2 separate regions of the Homo sapiens genome follow, and region 2 is linked to region 1. Evidence: fine-mapped expression QTL. A gene starts in region 1. The other region holds a variant in brackets. All regions are shown on one strand. Distances are between the middles of the regions. Region 1 holds the start of JUN (Jun proto-oncogene, AP-1 transcription factor subunit). Region 2 has its middle 20 kb from the start of LINC01358.

Region 1 (5,000 bases):
CCCACTGTTAACGTGGTTCATGACTTTCTGTTTAAGCTGTGCCACCTGTTCCCTGAGCATGTTGGCCGTGGACGCCAGCTCCGAGTTCTGAGCTTTCAAGGTTTTCACTTTTTCCTCCAGCCGGGCGATTCTCTCCAGCTTCCTTTTTCGGCACTTGGAGGCAGCGATGCGGTTCCTCATGCGCTTCCTCTCCGCCTTGATCCGCTCCTGGGACTCCATGTCGATGGGGGACAGGGGCGGTGTCTCGCCGGGCATCTCGGGCACTGTCTGAGGCTCCTCCTTCAGGGCCTGCAGCCGCGGGTGCTGCACGGGCATCTGCTGGGGCAGGTGGTGCGGCGGCTGCTGCTGCTGCTGGGGTTGCGCGGGAAAGGCCAGGCCGGCCGCGCCGTAGGAGGGCGCCCCGCCGCCGCTGCTCAGCGCGCCTGGGTTGAAGTTGCTGAGGTTTGCGTAGACCGGCGGCTCGCTGTGCAGGCTGGCGCTGAAGCCGCCGCTGCCGCTGCCCCCTGCCACCGAGGCTACCGCGGGAGCCACCATGCCTGCCCCGTTGACCGGCTGCGCCGCCGACGTGACGCTGGGCAGCGTGTTCTGGCTGTGCAGTTCGGCCAGGGCGCGCACGAAGCCCTCGGCGAAGCCCTCCTGCTCATCTGTCACGTTCTTGGGGCACAGGAACTGGGTGGGGGTCGGCGTGGTGGTGATGTGCCCGTTGCTGGACTGGATTATCAGGCGCTCCAGCTCGGGCGACGCCAGCTTGAGCAGCCCCACGTCGGGCGAGGTGAGGAGGTCCGAGTTCTTGGCGCGGAGGTGCGGCTTCAGGCTCCCCACTGGGTCGGCCAGGTTCAGGGTCATGCTCTGTTTCAGGATCTTGGGGTTACTGTAGCCATAAGGTCCGCTCTCGGACGGGAGGAACGAGGCGTTGAGGGCATCGTCATAGAAGGTCGTTTCCATCTTTGCAGTCATAGAACAGTCCGTCACTTCACGTGAGGTTAGTTTGGGCTGCGCGCACAAGTTTCGGGGCCGCAACAGGGCTGTGGCAAGCGGGGGACACCCGCGCCCCCCGGAGCCTTTGACAGGGAAAGTTTCTCTAAGAGCGCACGCACCCGCTGGCTGTCGTCCCCGCTGCGCCCTCCTCACCAGCTCGCTCCAGGGAGCGCAGGGTTAATTAAGATGCCTCCCGCACTCTTACTTGTCGACTCGCGCGCGCTACCCGGCTTTGAAAAGTCGCGGTCACTCACTGAGCGCTCTTCGTGCGCAGCGGTTCCTCGGAGTCCGCAGGCGAACTCACTTCCCAGAGCAGCGGCTCTCCCCGCGGAGCGGATCAGTGCGGACCCTGCAGTGGCCGGCCGGCGGCGGGTCTTGGCCGCCCGGACTCCGACGACTTGTCCCCTCCTCCGCTGCTAGGGGGAGGGGGCGCCCGGCAGCCGCGGCTCGCGCTCGCCCAAGTTCAACAACCGGTGCGAGCGAAGCTGAGCGCACGTCCTTCTTCTCTTGCGTGGCTCTCCGCCGCCTTCTGGTCTTTACCGCCGTGGAGAAGCCTAAGACGCAGGAAAGGCTTGCAAAAGTTGGCTCCGGGACTCTGCCACTTGTCTCCGGTCCTCCCAGCCGGGAAAGTTCTTTGCTGCTGCAGCCGCTCGCCGACTTCCCCCGGCGGGCGCGTGGGTACCGCTGCTTTCCGCCGCTGTCAACAGCGCCTGGGCAGCAGGGCTCTCCTCCCGGGGGCGGCTGGAGACCAGGCTCTCTGGACACTCCCGAAACACCAGCCCGGGAGCCACAGGCGCTAGCTCTGGGCAGTTAGAGAGAAGGTGAAAAGAAAATAAGATTTGCAGTTCGGACTATACTGCCGACCTGGCTGGCTGGCTGTGTCTGTCTGTCTGCCTGACTCCGCGCACCTCCACTCCCGCCTCGCTGCTTCAGCCACACTCAGTGCAACTCTGAGCCCTTATCCAGCCCGAGCTCAACACTTATCTGCTACCAGTCAACCCCTAAAAATAGCCCATGATGTCACCCCAAGGCCTTCCCATTGGCTCGCGTCGCTCTCAGGGGGGCGGGCCCGCCCGTCACCATGGAGACTCCACCCTAGAAGATTCTTCTCTGGGCCCGCGGAGGCTCACGGGATGAGGTAATGCTCCGCTGCCCTCCTACAGTCGGGCCCTTCTTTCTCCTACCCTCCCCCCTGCCGCACGCCTCTCGGCCCTCTCTTCCCCGGTCCCCTCCCCGGGCCGTTTTTCCCGGCCCGCCCGGTGCATTGTGGGCTGACGTCTTGGGGTTTGACTGTCTAGTGACGGTGGCTGCCGCGAGCGGGCGGACGCTCGCAACCTCTGATGGAGGGGGGCTCAAGTTCACGGCTGCGGACGGGGATGCGGGGGATGCAGGGACCCGGGAGGCCAGGGAACCTGGCCAGTTGTTTTGGGCCAGGGGTGCGGGCGAGGGGTGGTTGTTGTTTCCCCACTTGTGGGGCCCGAAGTCATCCACCGGCGGCCGCCACCGCGCGGGGCTGGAGGCTGAGAATCCAAGTACGCTGCCACCCCCCCGCACTTCCGGGGGGGCGGGAATACCGCCCTTAAGGTGGCTCTGTGAAGTCCCAGGTGGGGGCGAGCCTAAGGGGACTTAAGTTTAGGGGCGGTCTCCCGAGAGTCGGCCCCCCACGTTGAGAACACTCCGAAGTTTGCATCTCGGTCAAGTTCAGGAGCGACGGTCCGCGGGGTCGTCTGGCTGCTCGTAGAAGCCGAGAGATTTGTATTGCCCGAAACTGGACGCTCAGCTGAGTCTCCGTTGCACCCCACTTCATCCTCCGGGACCGTGGGGGAAAGGGCGCGGGGGTTCACAGCTTTGCCTCGGAGGGGCAGTTTTTATAGTGGGCGCAATTGGTGGGTAACAGGGTCCAGATGGGAACAAGCGTGTAGGCGATCCGAAACTCGGGGAACCCCGGTGTTAGTCTACTCCCCCTCCCGCCCCCGGACAACACGCACACGCTTAACACAACACGCACAACATAACGCGCGCGCGCGCGCACACACACACTCCATCCGCGCCGAGTTGCTTCCGGGAAAACAAGCCCAGAAGGCGGCGGACACTCGCATAAAGTCACGCAGTAGTACTCGGAGCCCGGGGTAGAACCTGGACTTCAAATCTCTGCACTCCCGGCCGGGTGGTGGGCGCATATCCTGGGTAGCCTCTAGGAAGCGCTAGACACATGTAAGTGGTTCCTTTTCCGCGGTTATTTTATTCTCCCCCCGCCCCCCACCCCTTAGGGACGAAAGTGTGTGGTGGAAAGAATCCCGAAGTCGGGAATCCTGGTTCTTTCGTGGCCAGGCTACCACAGTGTGAAGCAAGCAAATCACGGAACTCCTCCGAGCTTCATTTCCCTCATCTGCAGGTGGGGCCGGTGCCGTCCACCTCACTGGGCTGCCAGGAGTTAGTGTGACAGGGTCGCCTGCAGCACTAGGGAGGTGGTGGCCAAACAGCCCGCTTCCCTCCCCTGCCTCGCAGTTTCCATCCTCGCAGAGCCTGGATAGGATGCCAGGATATAAGAGTGCGATTTGGCAGGACCAGGTGTACTTTCCTGTGAGAAGCATCGAGGGGAGGAGGGGAGGGGGAACCGGGTTAGAAGTCAGATCTTTCCCAAGCCTCTGTCTAAAACTGGGGCTTGAAGTTGGACCTGCAGCAGTTTAAGTTCCTAGGTTCTAAATTCAGACTTCGCTGCTTCTGAACTTGGAATTCAGCCTTGGGTTCATTGCCCCCAGCCCTAAGGTATTTGCGGCTTTGAGTGTTCAGAAACCAACAGCAGCTGGTATCAGTGGGAAACCTGCCAACTTTTCTTCACTCCGGGCACTCACCTAGCTTTCACTGATCTGCAGAGGGTAACTGAAAGCCTACTGTGAGCCAGGCACTGAGCTGGGGAGGGGGTGGGGTAGGTAGGTATACAGTGATGACAAGATCCAGTTGCTTCCTCAAGGAGAGAACATTCTCCTCTGTCTGTTGCCCTGAATCATTTTCTGTTGTATTCAGGGAGTTGGTGTTCTAAATATTTTTTAATAACAGTAATAAAAATCAGTTTCATGTATTAAACACTTATTATCTGCCAGGCATTCTCCTAAGCAATTTAAATACGCTGTTTTCTCCCCACAACTGTCTTGAGAGACATATATTATTATCCAGATTTAACATGTGAGGAAATAGGCCCAGAGAGGTTAAGTATCTTTGTTGAGGTCACACAGGCAGCTGGAAATTGACCTCAGGTCTGTGTTACATTCCTTTGTATTTTCTCTACTCTGGCAAACTTTCTTGTGGAGTATTAGTTATCTGCAGAGGAAATAGCGCTTGTGGCATAGAAGAAATTTTCTTGCCTGATCCTCTGACTGTAACTCCGTTCAGAGCTCTTGTATTTAGAAATTTCAAGACTTAGGACTTTGCATAAATATATATCTTTTGCCTAAGGTTCTGTGTGTTCCTCTCTGCCTCATGTGGTTTAGTAGGCTGATCTTCTCCTTATGTTGAGAAATAGCATATTTCATCCAAAAAAATAACAAATCTGTTCATGTTAACGCCCCTGCTTGGAAGCCTTCATTGGCTTTTCCTTACAATCAGGAGAGTTCCGATTCCTATGCCTTGGAGAAGGGGCTTTTCACAATCCAACTCCTTCTCTCTCCAGCCTTATCTCTCACTCCCAGTTCTGTCAGGAAAGGCAGTGTTATGCTGCCCTAACAAACAACCCTAACATATCAGTGGCTTATTCCAGTGAAAGTTGGTCATTTCTGCTACATGACCGTTGTAGGTTGGCAGGGTAGCTCTGCTCATTGTAGTCACTAAAGGGCTCAGGCTGAAGGAGGCCTCGTGTTGATACCCCTTTTCACAGCTATCCTGACTGTGGGGAAGGAACTCGGAACATCATGGCTGTCAGAGCATCCACTTATGGCACACATCACTTCTGCCCATACATCATTGGCCAAAGCAGTCACATGGCCATGCCTCTTTAGATCACTATAATCCTACCAGGTGTCTCA
Region 2 (5,523 bases), 220 kb after region 1:
GATACCCATACACACTGGGGAGGGCCATCTGCTTACTCAGTCTGTCAATCTAAATATTAATCTCATTCACAAAAAACCTTGTAGACACACCCAAAATAATGTTTGATCAAATGTTTGGGTACCCCAATGCCCAGTCAAGTTGATACATAAAATCAACCATCACTAGGGGGTTAAGTGTCCTGAGGTTTTCTCCCCCTGCTATATCTCCTAGCTGAAACCCTAGGGCAGCCTGGATCTCTGAAGTGTGCAGTAAACATGGACAGAAAAACATCAAGATGAACTCTCTCTTTCTGGCTGGAAGACTGGGAGGGCGGGCCCTTCAGGACAAAGACTGTAGGGGTACTCTCATTTCATTTTACTTTTTTTATTCTCCTAGCTTGGTGCCAAAGCCAGACTTAGTCATGAACTATACTCCTGCAGCAGTGGTGGCAACAGTGGTTCTTAGGCAATAAAAAGTGTAAGAGAAAATTCTTCCCTCTGACCAAAGGAACTGGGAAAATAGACCCCTGCAGTCTAAAGACTGTGAAGCAGTCTCCATTATTTTGTTCCTCCTTTTTCTAACTGCTTCATTCTCAAAGTGGACACAGTTGTGAAAAATGTCTGACAGCACAGGAGGCTAAAACCCTGGCTTTCTCTCCAGCACAACAGGAAAATGTGACCCTGCATATGGAAGAGTGGGGAAATCATAGAGAAGAGGGAGATGGAAAAAGAGATCTCTTAAATCTGGGTATGAAATCCTGGGCTCACTCGCAGGATTCACGTACAAGGAACTGACCCAAAACAGTATAATGAAGGCTTTGAGTCTGAACTACAATGTGGGCCGTTTCCTAGGCCCCAGACCAGCCCCTGGATAGTGTCCACATGGGGCAGACCCTAATAGCACTGCAAAGGCTTTGAAAATGAAGCTAGCATTAGAACCTCATCCCACAAAAAGTAAGTTGGGAGTTGGGGTATGAGCCTAACTCTTTTAATTGCTTTAGAAAAAAATCAACATTCTTCAGAGAATTTTTTTTTTTTTTGAGACAGAGTCTCAGTGCAACACCCACACTGGAGTGCAATGGAATGATCACAGCTCACTCCAGCCTCAACTTTCCTAGGCTCAGGTACTTCTCTCATCTCAGCCTCCCAAGTAGCTGGGACAGCAGGTGCACACCACCATGCTTGATTAATTTTTTGTATTTTTTGTAAAGACAGGGTTTTGCCATGTTTCCCAGGCTAGACTCAAACTCCTGGGCTCAAGTGACCTACCCATCTTGGCCTCCCAAAGTGCTGAGATTACAGGCAAACCACCACACCCAGCCTCTTCAAAGAATCTTAACAGGACCTAGAGAATTATACATAATTCAAATGTCTAAGATACAATTCAAAATTAATCAATACACAAATAACAAAAAAAAAAAAACAAGAAAATCTCACCAACTCTCAAAGAAAAAAGACAATCAACCAATCAACACACACCAACACCAAATTGACCAAGGTACCGATGGTGGAATAAACAAAGACTCTAAGAAACTGTTATACACACACACATACACACCTCCTCCACACACACACAAATATAATTAAGCTCCATGAAGTGGGAGAGAGCATTAGTGAATAGTGAAACAAATGAAAAGATGGACACTTTCAGCAAAGAGAAGCTATTGAAAAAAAATGAAAATTTTATAATGAAAAATACAATGATAGAAATAAAATAATTCGCTGAAGGAGATCAGTAACATAATGGAGATAGAGTCAGTGAACTTGAAGATGAGGAATTAGGCTGGCCATCTTTTCCTGTAAAGGAACAGATAGTAAATATTTTAGAATTGAATGACCATAAACTATGTCATAACTCCTCAGCTCTACAATTATAGCATGAAAACAGCCATAGATCATATGTAAATTAATGGAAATAGCTGTTTCAATAAATCTTTATTTAATGAACAGGCAAGCTAGATTTGTCCTGTGAACCATGGTTTTCTGACCACTGAGATAGATCAATAGAAGCTATCTAATCTGAAAAATACAGAAAAGTAACTGAAAAACAATAAGCAGTCTCAGGGACAAGTGGCCTGATATCACAAGATGTAACATTCATGTCATCAGAGTGAAATGACAGAATGATAGAAAAGAGAAGAAAGAGATTAGTATTAGAAAAATATTTGAAGAAATCACGGCTAAAACTTCTCAGATTCGGGGGAATTCATGTGGAGGTCAAAGTGGAAACAGGTGTGAGAGGTCCAGCAGAAGAAAACATGGCTGCCAAAGTGTTTGAGTCCATAGGCAAGTTTGGCCTGGTCTAAGCTGTTGCAGGAGGCGTGGTGAACTCTGCCTTATATAATGTGGATGCTGGGCACAGAGCTGTCATCCTTGACCGATTCCGTGGAGTACAGGAAATTGTGGTAGGGGAAGGGACTCACTTTCTCATCCTCTGGGTACAGAAACCAGTTATCTTTGACTGCCATTCTTGACCACGTAATGTGTCAGTCATCACTGGTAGCAAAGATTTACAGAATGTCAACATCACACTGCACATCCCCTTCCAGCCCGTCGCTAGCCAGCTTCCTCGCATCTTCACCAGCATCGGAGAGGACTATGATGAGCCTGTGCTGCCATCCATCACAACTGAGAT[G/A]CTCAAGTCAGTGGTGGTTTGCTTTGATGCTGGAGAACTAATCACCCAGAGAGAGCTGGTCTCCAGGCAGGTGAGCGACAACCTTACGGAGTGAGCAGCCACCTTTAGGCTCATCCTGGACGACGTGTCCTTGACATATCTGACCTTCAGGAAGGACTTCACAGAAGCAGTGGGAGCCAAACAGGTGGCTCAGCAGGAAGCAGAAAGGGCCAGATTTGTGATGGAAAAGGCTAAGCAGCAGAAAAAGGCAGCTATCATCTCTGCTGAGGGTGACTCCAAGGCAGCTGAGCTGATTGCCAACTCACTGGCCACTGCAGGGGACGGCCTGATCGAGCTGCGCAAGCTGTAAGCTGCGGAGGACATCGCCTACCAGCTCTCACGCTCTCAGAACATCACCTACCTGCCAGCGGGGCAGTCCGTGCTCCTCCAGCTGCCCCAGTGAGGGCCCACCTTGCCTGCACCTCCACAGGCTGACTGGACCACAGCCCTGATGATATTTAACATCGACTTCCTTCTGCCCCCACCCCAGAAATCACTGTGAAATTTCATGATTGGCTTAAAGTGACGGAATTAAAGGTAAAATCACTTCAGATCTCAAAAAAAAGAAAAATTCTCAGATTTGATGAAAGTCATAGATTTACAGCTTTAAAAAGCTCAAGAAACCCCAAACAAGATAAATTCAAAGTAAAATACACCAAGACACATGATGAAACTGAATACAATGAAAAACATCTTGAAAGAAACCAGAAAACATTGGGGAACAATGATCGCATATTTCTCATCAGAAACCGTGGAGACCAGAAAACAGTGAAACAACATTTTTAAAGGCCTATGAGAAAAGAGCTGCAAACCCAGAATTCTATATCTAGTGAAAATATCCTTCAGGAGCGAAGACAAAATTAAGATATTCTCAGATAAAGGAAAATCAGCAAAATGTGTTACTAGTAGACCTGCTCTAAAATAAATGCTAAAGGAAGTTCTTCAGGTGGAGAGGGAATGATAAAACAACAAAAATACTTGGACTTTAGGAATGAAGAAAGCATAAGATAAAAAGAGAAAAGATATAATTTACCAATATCTGGAACAAAAAAGAGGCTATCACCGCAGAACTCACAGATTTTAAAGGATAATTGATATACTATAAATAACTCATAAATTTGACAGCTTAGATAAAATGGTCCATTTTCGTAAAATACACAAACTACCAAAACTCACTAGTGAAGAAATATATGACCTACGTAGTCCTATATTTACTAAAGAAATTGAGATTATAGTTAAAGACCTTCCAATGAAGGAAAGTTTGGGTCCAAGTGGTTTTACTGGTGAATTGCACCAAACATTAAAAAAAAGTTAATTGTATATAAGCTTTCAAAAAATAGGGAAAAGGAACATTCTCAACTCCTTTTAAGTGGCCAGCATTATCCTGATATCCAAACCAGACACAGCACAATAATATAAAATAAAATTAAACAAAATATTAGCAAATCAAATCCAGTAGCATATGAAAAGGATAATAGCTCACAACCAAGTGGGATTAATATGAAGAATGCAAGGTGATTCATCATCGAAAAAAATCAAAGACTGTAATCCACCCTATTAACAGACTAAAGAAAAACTACATGATAATAGATGCAGAAAAAGCAATATCTATCTATGGCAGACTCAGCAAACTAGGAATAGTAGGGATCTTCCTTAACATGGTAAATGGCAACTACAAAAATAGAGTACATAATTCTACATGAATAAATCCCAAAGATAAAATGTTGACCAAGAAAGAAAATTGCTGGATATTTATAGTATGATATCATTTATATAAAGTTTTGCTATATGCAAAATTATTACAATTGCTTATGGATAAAGTATAAATGTTTGCAAGGGAATAGCAAATATTAAAATCAGATAGTGGCCACATCTGGGGAGTGACAGAAGGGAATAGGATTGGAGATTGACACACAAGGAGCCGCAGCTTTACTGTAATGTTCGAACTCTTCTTAAAAAATCTGAATCAAATATGACAAAATGATAAGATTTGAAGAGCAAAATGAAAGAGACATGACCATTCATTACATTGTCTGTATTTTCCTGTATAGTGAATATTTTATAGTTTTTTATTTTATTTTATTTATTTATTTTTGAGAAGGAGTCTGGCTCTGTCACCCAGGCTGGAGTGCAGTGGTGCAATCTCGGCTCATTGCAACCCTCTGCCTCCTGGGTTCAATGATTCTCCTGCCTCAGACTCCACAGTAGCTGGGATTACAGGCATGCACCACCACGCCCGGCTAATTTTTGTATTTTTAGTAGAGACAAGGTTTCGCCATGTTGGCCAGGCTGGTCTCGAACTCCTGACCTCAGGTGATCTGCCCGCCTCAGCCCCCCAAAATGCTAGGATTGCAGGCATGAGCCACTGTGCCCAGCAAGTTTTTTAACTATGTAAGCACTATATATTTAAAATATATAAACACTGATAAAAGCGTCCTCAGGATCTTACGGAAGCACAAAGCGTAGGGGAGGAGGAAAGAATAGGTCTTCGAGGGCTTCCCGCAGGTGATGCTAGTAATTCTTAAACAGTTACCACATGCCAGGTAATGCTCTAACTTCTAGAAGTAGTAGCTTACTTATTTTACACAACAACCCTATGAAGCTTGCACACCTATCCTCAGTTAGAGATAAATTGAAACCCAGAGAGGTTAAATAACTTGCTCCAAGTCAGAAAGCTAGAAAATAAGAGTTGGGATGAAAACCAGGCAGCCTAGACCCAAATCCTGAACTGGTCAACCACACGAACAATCCACTGCAATGCTTTACTTTAGAGCAATTACTCTGCTTGCTGTGTGGACAACAGTGTAGACTCAGGCAAGGCTGAAGGCAGGGCGATAGTGGGCCCTTTTTGCTTATTGATTTCCTTACTA

Evidence for each region. PIP is the estimated chance that this variant, and not a neighbour inherited with it, causes the effect.
Region 2: its variant is the best candidate, but not a certain one, in a credible set for the expression of JUN in whole blood (INTERVAL, PIP 0.87).

Annotation. Positions count from the first base shown.
Region 1 is chr1:58,782,114-58,787,113 of GRCh38, forward strand. JUN (Jun proto-oncogene, AP-1 transcription factor subunit) reads right to left here and starts at 1,934. Exons shown (of 1, transcript NM_002228.4): 1 at 1-1,934. The coding sequence starts at 957. JUN-DT (JUN divergent transcript) reads left to right here and starts at 3,038. Exons shown (of 2, transcript NR_108106.1): 1 at 3,038-3,192. RefSeq lists enhancers at 44-223, 1,632-2,379, 1,894-2,153, 2,380-3,125 and a silencer at 294-373.
Region 2 is chr1:58,997,439-59,002,961 of GRCh38, forward strand. It overlaps the pseudogene PHB1P3. Among named protein-coding and RNA genes, the nearest start is that of LINC01358, 20 kb to the right of the region's middle. The variant G/A (reference allele first, on the strand shown) is at 2,615.